2 linked regions of the Homo sapiens genome follow. The protein of the gene in region 1 interacts with the protein of each later gene in a pairwise test. Each region holds a gene or a part of one and is shown on either strand. Other genes may lie near its edges.

What was found. Proteins that work in one complex are often made in the same cells at the same time.
Region 2: the proteins of SEPTIN9 (region 1) and PTPRF interact in a two-hybrid assay, tested with the Homo sapiens proteins (one study listed by BioGRID).

The regions. Positions count from the first base shown.
Region 1 is NC_000017.11:77,399,999-77,403,498, reverse strand, and holds part of SEPTIN9 (septin-9), read right to left. Parts: intron 1,441-3,500; coding exon 796-1,440; intron 1-795.
Region 2 is NC_000001.11:43,600,383-43,603,882, forward strand, and holds part of PTPRF (receptor-type tyrosine-protein phosphatase F isoform 1 precursor), read left to right. Parts: intron 1-1,688; coding exon 1,689-1,715; intron 1,716-3,033; coding exon 3,034-3,151; intron 3,152-3,228; coding exon 3,229-3,500. UniProt on the Homo sapiens protein: Possible cell adhesion receptor. It possesses an intrinsic protein tyrosine phosphatase activity (PTPase) and dephosphorylates EPHA2 regulating its activity.

The DNA.
Region 1 (3,500 bases):
GGCACCAATCCCCTGCCTGTAAGCTCCATGTCAGCACGGCTGTGGGCTTGAGCCCTCCCAGGACGCTGCTGGAGCCCCATGGCCTCTCTCCTCTCGCCAGAAGGGCACCCCCAAATAAAACCGTGTGCAGCTATCACACAGCCCCCTGGTCCAGGCACCCCTTCCCAGTGCCCTGAGAATTTTGTCCTGCAGGCTAAGGTGCTCCTCATGTTCCCCTCCCTCTGCCACAACCATCCCTCCTGGGGGAGGAGGACCAGACCATGGGCTCCAATGCAAGCCTCAGGAGGCATACGTCCCTCCTCCCTTCCCCAAGCCCTCGGCCTCTGCTGGGCATATCCAGGCAGCCTGCAATTCCTCAAGCAGGAGCCACCAGAATGTGACAGCCCTTCTAGGGGTCTCAACTCCACCCTGTCCTACACCCCTGCATGAGCCTGCCCTGGTTCCTGCGTGGCTCCTCATTCTCTAAGCCTCCCAGGCCCTCCAGGGACACACAGCAGACAGAGGTCCCAGCAAGGCCCACGGTGACCCATAAAGGAGGCTCCTTGAAACCCAGAAAATCTTTCCAAACTCTCATTCAAGTCCCGCTTGGGGCATCTTGGCATGTTCCCATCAGACAGAGAGAGCCACCTCTCCTGAGCTTGCAGACCCCCACCCCCATGCATTCCGGTCTTTCTGGGTCTCCAGGGTAGCACCCTCCACCCCATATCCAGCTTCTTCCTCCAAGATTCTGTGGCAAAGCCAGCAACCAGGCCCCCCATTACCACAGCATCCAAGACCTAGCGCTCTGCGACTCACCCTCCTGGCTCCGGGGTGTAGCCTCAGCCACAGGGGGCTGGGGCTTGGGCTCCAGCCTGCTCTGCAGCTGAGACACAGGGGCAGGCTCTGAATTCTCCAAGGTCTGGGCTGGGCTGGGGGCGGTGGGCGCCTCAGCAGGCTTGGGCATCTGGATCTCCACCCTCTTGGGGGCTGCGTCGGTGGCAGGGGCAGTGGGCACCTCGGGGACCTTGGAGGCAGGGGGCTCCATCCTCCGGTGGGCTGACTCCTGGGGTTTGACGATGGTGATCTCCGTCCTCCGAGGGGCCGGTTCTGGCGTCTTGTGGCCCAACACCTCGGCCCTCTTGAGCCCGAACCGGGACGGGCCGATGGCCCCGGCGTTCTCCACCTGCTTGGACGAGATGTCAATGGACAGCTCAGTGCGCCGGGACACCGGCTCGGCCGCCTTGGGGCCCGAGAGCTCCACCCTCCGCAGGGACGCCTTGGGGGAGCGTTGGCTTAGGGAGTCCACATGGCGGGCCGAGGGTTCTGAGTTCTTCACGCCCAGGTCCTGGAATTTCTGGGTGGAGCTGGCCACAGTGGCTCGGAGTAGGGGAGTCTGGACCCTCCGGGGTGGGGTGGAGTTGGGTGTCTCGACCTCCTCGACCTCAAAAGATCTTTTCAAGGCTGAAAAATAAAGAGAGGGGATGCAATTGGTGAATGGATGGCTAGGGAACACTCCGGCATGTTTCCTGCTAAGGAGCAGCAGAGGAAGGCAGGCGATGCGGCGGTGAGGGCCGGGGGTCTCTTCCCGTCCTTCATGTCTCAGCAAGCGGAAGGGACAGCCCCATCCTAGGAGAACCATCATGAGTTCTGGGGCAGAGATGCAGGCTGGAGTGGGAAGATGCTGCCCGTCGTGTCTTGCCATGGCCACGGCGCAAACCACACAGCCTCCCCCTCCAGCTACGTCTACATAGGAACGTTCTAGTTCCAGAGAAGACTTTTATTTCCTTCTTTTTTTTTTTGAGATGGAGTCTTGCTCTGTTGCCCTGGCTGGAGTGCAGCGGCACCTCCCGGGTTCAAGCGATTCTCCTACCTCAGCCTCCCCAGTAGCTGGGATTATAGGCACGGGCCACCATGCCTGGCTAATTTTTGTATTTTTAGTAGAGATGGGGTTTCACCATGTTGGTCAGTCTGGTCTCGGACTCCTGACCTCAAGCGATCCACCCGCCTCGGCCTCCCAAAGTGCTGGGATTACAGGCGTGCGCCACCGTGCCCGGCCTTGATTTCCTTCTTGTCGCGGCTGTTTTTATCCCTCCTCACCTCCAGCCAAGGCACACACTGGGACACCACCAGCAAACACACCTCTACCATCAGCCACAGCGGGGGACATGCCTCCAATAATAAGTGACCGCAACTGTAACCAATCAGAACCGCAGCAGGAACAAAACCCCATCAATGACACTAAGGGCGGACACTGGAGCTTTCAGTGCCGGCGAGGCGCCGGGCCTACCGAGCTCATCACATCTGCAGCCGCTTAACCCTGGGATGTAAAGAATACCAGTACCCCCAGTACAGATGGGGAAAGTGGGGCACGGGGTAGACACAGAGCCAGACTGTACATCAGGCTGATACCAGAGCCCAAGGTTCTAACCACTTGGTTGTCCGGCTCCCCCAGCTTAGTCCACAGGAACCAACTTTCTCAGTCATCAGCCTCTCCTGCATCTTCCCATCCACTACTACAAGCCCGTGCAGTGATGCCAACCACCAGCTCCCGCCCTGCAGCCATCCTGCCTCTCCACCAGGGTCTGCTCCCTCGGAGGCAGTGGGGATGGTACCTGGGAAGCTGCCACCTCCACAGTCCCCACAACCGCACTCCAAATGAGAGCCAGCCGCTCCTGGTTATCAGGGCCAGAGCAGGGAGGGACCCACATGGCAGGCACATTCACCAGCTCCTTCCCCAGGCCAGACCCACAGCGCACCCCTGTGGAGACCCACAGTGTCTCCCCAGCCGCTCCCTGCCTCACCAGGCCACAGAGTCCGGGTCTCATGGGATCCCACCACTGCCTCCCCTGCCCACAGGAAAAGGGATGACAGCTGGTCCCCAGCCCCCAATAATAGCGCTCCAGGACCAATTTCAGTGCCTTCCCCTCACCCGTCTCTCTTCCTCCAAATGCACTCAGGCACTGGGGAGGGGAAGAGGAAGCCCAACCCCCTAACCCTGGCCGCCTCAGCTGCCAGCTTCCTGGGCAAGGCACTCCTGTGGGCGCCCTCTCTAAGCCACAGGCACCTCTCCTTCTTGGTGGACACAGACGAAATCCTGGGTCACTAAGCTCAACCTCCACCAGAAGCTGGGCAAGGAGCCGTGTGGACTCCAGAGAACTCTCAGTTGTCACAGGCCCTGTCTCAGCTCCGTCACTGCCCTAGAGGATATGGGCCCGGCGTGGCCAGAGCTGTTCACTTCTCAAGAGAGTAGAAATCTGGATCTTTATATGATATCTCCTGATCTTTAAATGCTGGCACAAAGCAAAACAAGCCCTTTTTAAAACACTGAGCAGCCTGGCTGATGTGGTGAAACCCCATCTTTACTAAAAATAAAAAATTAGCTGGGCATGGTGACACTCGCCTATAGTCCCAGCTACTCAGGAGGCTGAGGCAGGAGAATCGCTTGAACCCGGGAGGCAGAGGTTGCAGAGCTGAGATCGTGTCACTGCACTCAGCCTGACTGACAGAGCGAGACTCTGTCT
Region 2 (3,500 bases), on another chromosome or scaffold:
AGTCTCAGACATCCCATCATGGGGGCGGTAACTCGAGTCTGGGCTCCCGGAGGACACTGAAGATGGAGGCCTGCTCCGTAGCCCTCTCAGGACTGGGTCATTCTGTTCCTCGCCAGTGGGAGAGCAGTGGGGCCTGGTCCCGAGCGTGGCCACAGGGCCCAGCTGTCCCTGTGCTTCTGTCAAGGGCGGCACATTCTGTCCTTCACGCAACAGCACCATCCCCTCAGCTCATCCCCCATCATGCCTGAAGGAACTATGTGGTGCAGGTTCCCACCCCCAGCCTGGAAGTGTGGAGCCAGACCTGTCTCCTTTTACGTCAGATTCCATCTCCCTGCCTCCCTTTTTCCCCTCTCGTGGCCTGCATTTCTCTCTCCTTCTTGGAGTCTCTGTTTTTGTCTTGCTCTTTCTCTTCTCTCTCCTCCTTCCTTCCCTCCTCCCCCTGCCATTCCTCTGACCCCTTTCCTTCATCTCCATTTGGTTTCATCCTCCGTCCTTCCCTTCTTTCTTGCTCTGCCTCTAGCGCAGGACAGGGTCCATGTGATGTGAGAACCTCCACGCCAAGGCTTGGTTGGGACAGCCCAGGTCTCCCCGCAGGCAAGGAGACTGGAAGGGACGTGGGCCCAGCCACACCCTATAAAGTGGCCATGCACTAAGGACCTGTCCAGAGTCTCCTCTCATATTCTGTTCCATGCTTCTTGCAAGGACTTTCCAACAGAGTGTCCCAGGACAGGAGGAACTTAGGCCACCCAGCATGGAGGCCAGTGGACAGAGGCCAGACCGGCACTGTGGGGGTGCTTGGGCTGGAGGACCCCAGGTACTTCCGGCTTGGAGACATCCTGGACCATCTCCCTGTGATGTTTCATGGGGCCTCAGAATGGAGACCTCACAGTCCCTCCACCTGTCCATCTAGAATATCTACATGCACCAAAGGCCCGCAACACTGCCAGCCCCGAAACATTCCTTCCTACCTTAATCCTCAGACACCCCGAGGAAGGAACGGGTATAGGTGATTTCCCGTGCCTGTGGGCTACAGCCCAGGCTCTGAGCTTGGCACTCACAGCCTTCATAGTCTTGCTGACTGGCTTGCCCTTGGGCCCACCCTGGCCATGTGCCCTGTTCACCCCCAACTCTTACTGTTGTGGGACACTTCTCATGCCTGGGGTGATTGTGTAATGTATGATCACATCTGGGATGCTTTGGCGGGTGGAAGGAGACACTGAATAGTCAATTCCATGGCAACAAGCACAGGCCAGGACTGTCCGAGGCAAACCAGGGCATATGGGCACCCCATTCACCCCTCAGTGTCTTCCTTTCCCTTGGCCTGAGCTGTTGAACCCACCCTTCTTGTCTGGCAGCCTCTCCCTCCCAGCAAGCCCAAAATTGTCAGAGCATCTGTAGCTGCTTTGTGTTCTTAGGGCCTTCTGTCAGCGGGTCCTCTCCCTGCAGGCTGCCTGCCCTCCCTGTCTCCCTACCCTCCTCAGCCCTGGCACACCCAGTTGGTGCTCAGTGAGGCAGGGATTCAAATCTTTGAACCGGGAGTTGTTCTGGGGTGCTACCCCCATGGGTACTTTGAGGCCCAAAAGCCCTCCCTCTGTCCTCCCTGGGCAAGGTCCCTTCCAGGCCAGGCCCTCTCCAGGTCAGAGTCCTTCACCATCCTGTCTCCCTTTCTCTCCCTCTCCCGCGGTCAGTGGCGGCCAGAGGAGTCCGAGGACTATGTAAGTAACAGGTGTGCGAACGCGGACAAGACATGGGTCAAGCTGGGCTCGTGGGACGCTCCTCCTCTCCCTCCTTTCCTGCTAGCCTGCACTGCCAAGATCCACAGGGCTCTAGCCACATCAGGAGAAAATTGGCGTTTAGACACAAGCACTGAGCTGAGCAGCGATTGGCATTTCCTCTAATCCTTACTTCTTGCCTGTCGAGCAGCAATTTGAGGCCAGTGTTCATGATCGACCAGGGCCTGGCCCCTGCCCCGGCCAGACAGGGATGGAGTTAAATCCAATCCTGATCGTTAGGCCTTATTGATCCCTGGAGTGAAAAATCACCTGCTTTAGGGCCCAGGCTGGGAGGGCTGTCTGGAGAGTCGGATTCTGGCATTGGTGCATTCTGGAGCCCCAGCCCTGGGAGACCCTCCAGCTGTGGCAGGAGGGGTCCATGAGGGGGTGGTGGCAGCTGCAGGGGCCCCACTCAAGGCCAGAGCTGGAGGGATACCAGGGTTGATGACGGCTCTGTTCCCACTGCACGGTGGTCCCTGCCCTGCTTCCCACTCTTCTCTCTGTGTGGTGTGGCTTGACCTCCCATGGTGTTTCTCCGCATGTCCAGAGATGATGCCTTTGCTGCAGATGGGTATATGGGCAGGGTCTGCCAAGCGGGGAGGACATTGCCCTGGCTGCTGTCTCAGGCATCACTGAGAACAGATGTGGAAGCCAGTTCCCCAGGTGTGGAGGTTTTCTTATTCTCCTAGCCCCTCCCCTGCCTTTCTCAAGAGGTATTGCAGGGTATAGACATTCACAGAGTTAGTGGCCTATATGGGGGCAGCGGAGTCCTGACTGGGTCCTATAGGATGGCACCTTAGCCCATCCTGCCACCTTGCTCTGTCTGTGCATGCATGCACTGGTGTCCACAGGCAGCCTTACGCCTGCTTATGCAGGAGCTGTAGGCTGTGTGCGTGTGGCTGCCAAGAGCCACGCAAGGTGCTGGGTGCGTGCGAGGCTGTGCCCTGTTGATATCCTCAGTCTCCGTTCACAGCACAGTGGAGTGAGGGAAACAGTCTGGCCCTTTGTTCTTGTCTGAAAAGAATAATGAGCTGTCTGCCCCAGGCGTGCGGCTCCTGGGATGGGCGGGGTCCTCCCAGGCCTGCATCCTACCTGCCTGCTTCCTCTCCAGCAGAGGCCACCATTGTATAGCCCCACCTTCCACAACCCCTGGCCTTGTGTGCCCCGGGGCTCCCCTCAGGCTAGGGTCCTGAGGTCCCTGACAAGGTCTGGCCTCTCCCTGCATTCTTGTGATGGGAACGAACCCCTCCTCCTCCCTCAGGAAACCACTATCAGCGGCCTGACCCCGGAGACCACCTACTCCGTTACTGTTGCTGCCTATACCACCAAGGGGGATGGTGCCCGCAGCAAGCCCAAAATTGTCACTACAACAGGTGCAGGTGAGTGAGGGGTCAGGACGGACCTGAGGGTGGGGCAGCAGGAGGGCAGCGCCAGAGCCCAGCCCGTGGTCCTTCAGTCCCAGGCCGGCCCACCATGATGATCAGCACCACGGCCATGAACACTGCGCTGCTCCAGTGGCACCCACCCAAGGAACTGCCTGGCGAGCTGCTGGGCTACCGGCTGCAGTACTGCCGGGCCGACGAGGCGCGGCCCAACACCATAGATTTCGGCAAGGATGACCAGCACTTCACAGTCACCGGCCTGCACAAGGGGACCACCTACATCTTCCGGCTTGCTGCCAAGAACCGGGCTGGCTTGGGTGAGGAGTTCGAGAAGGAGATCAGGACC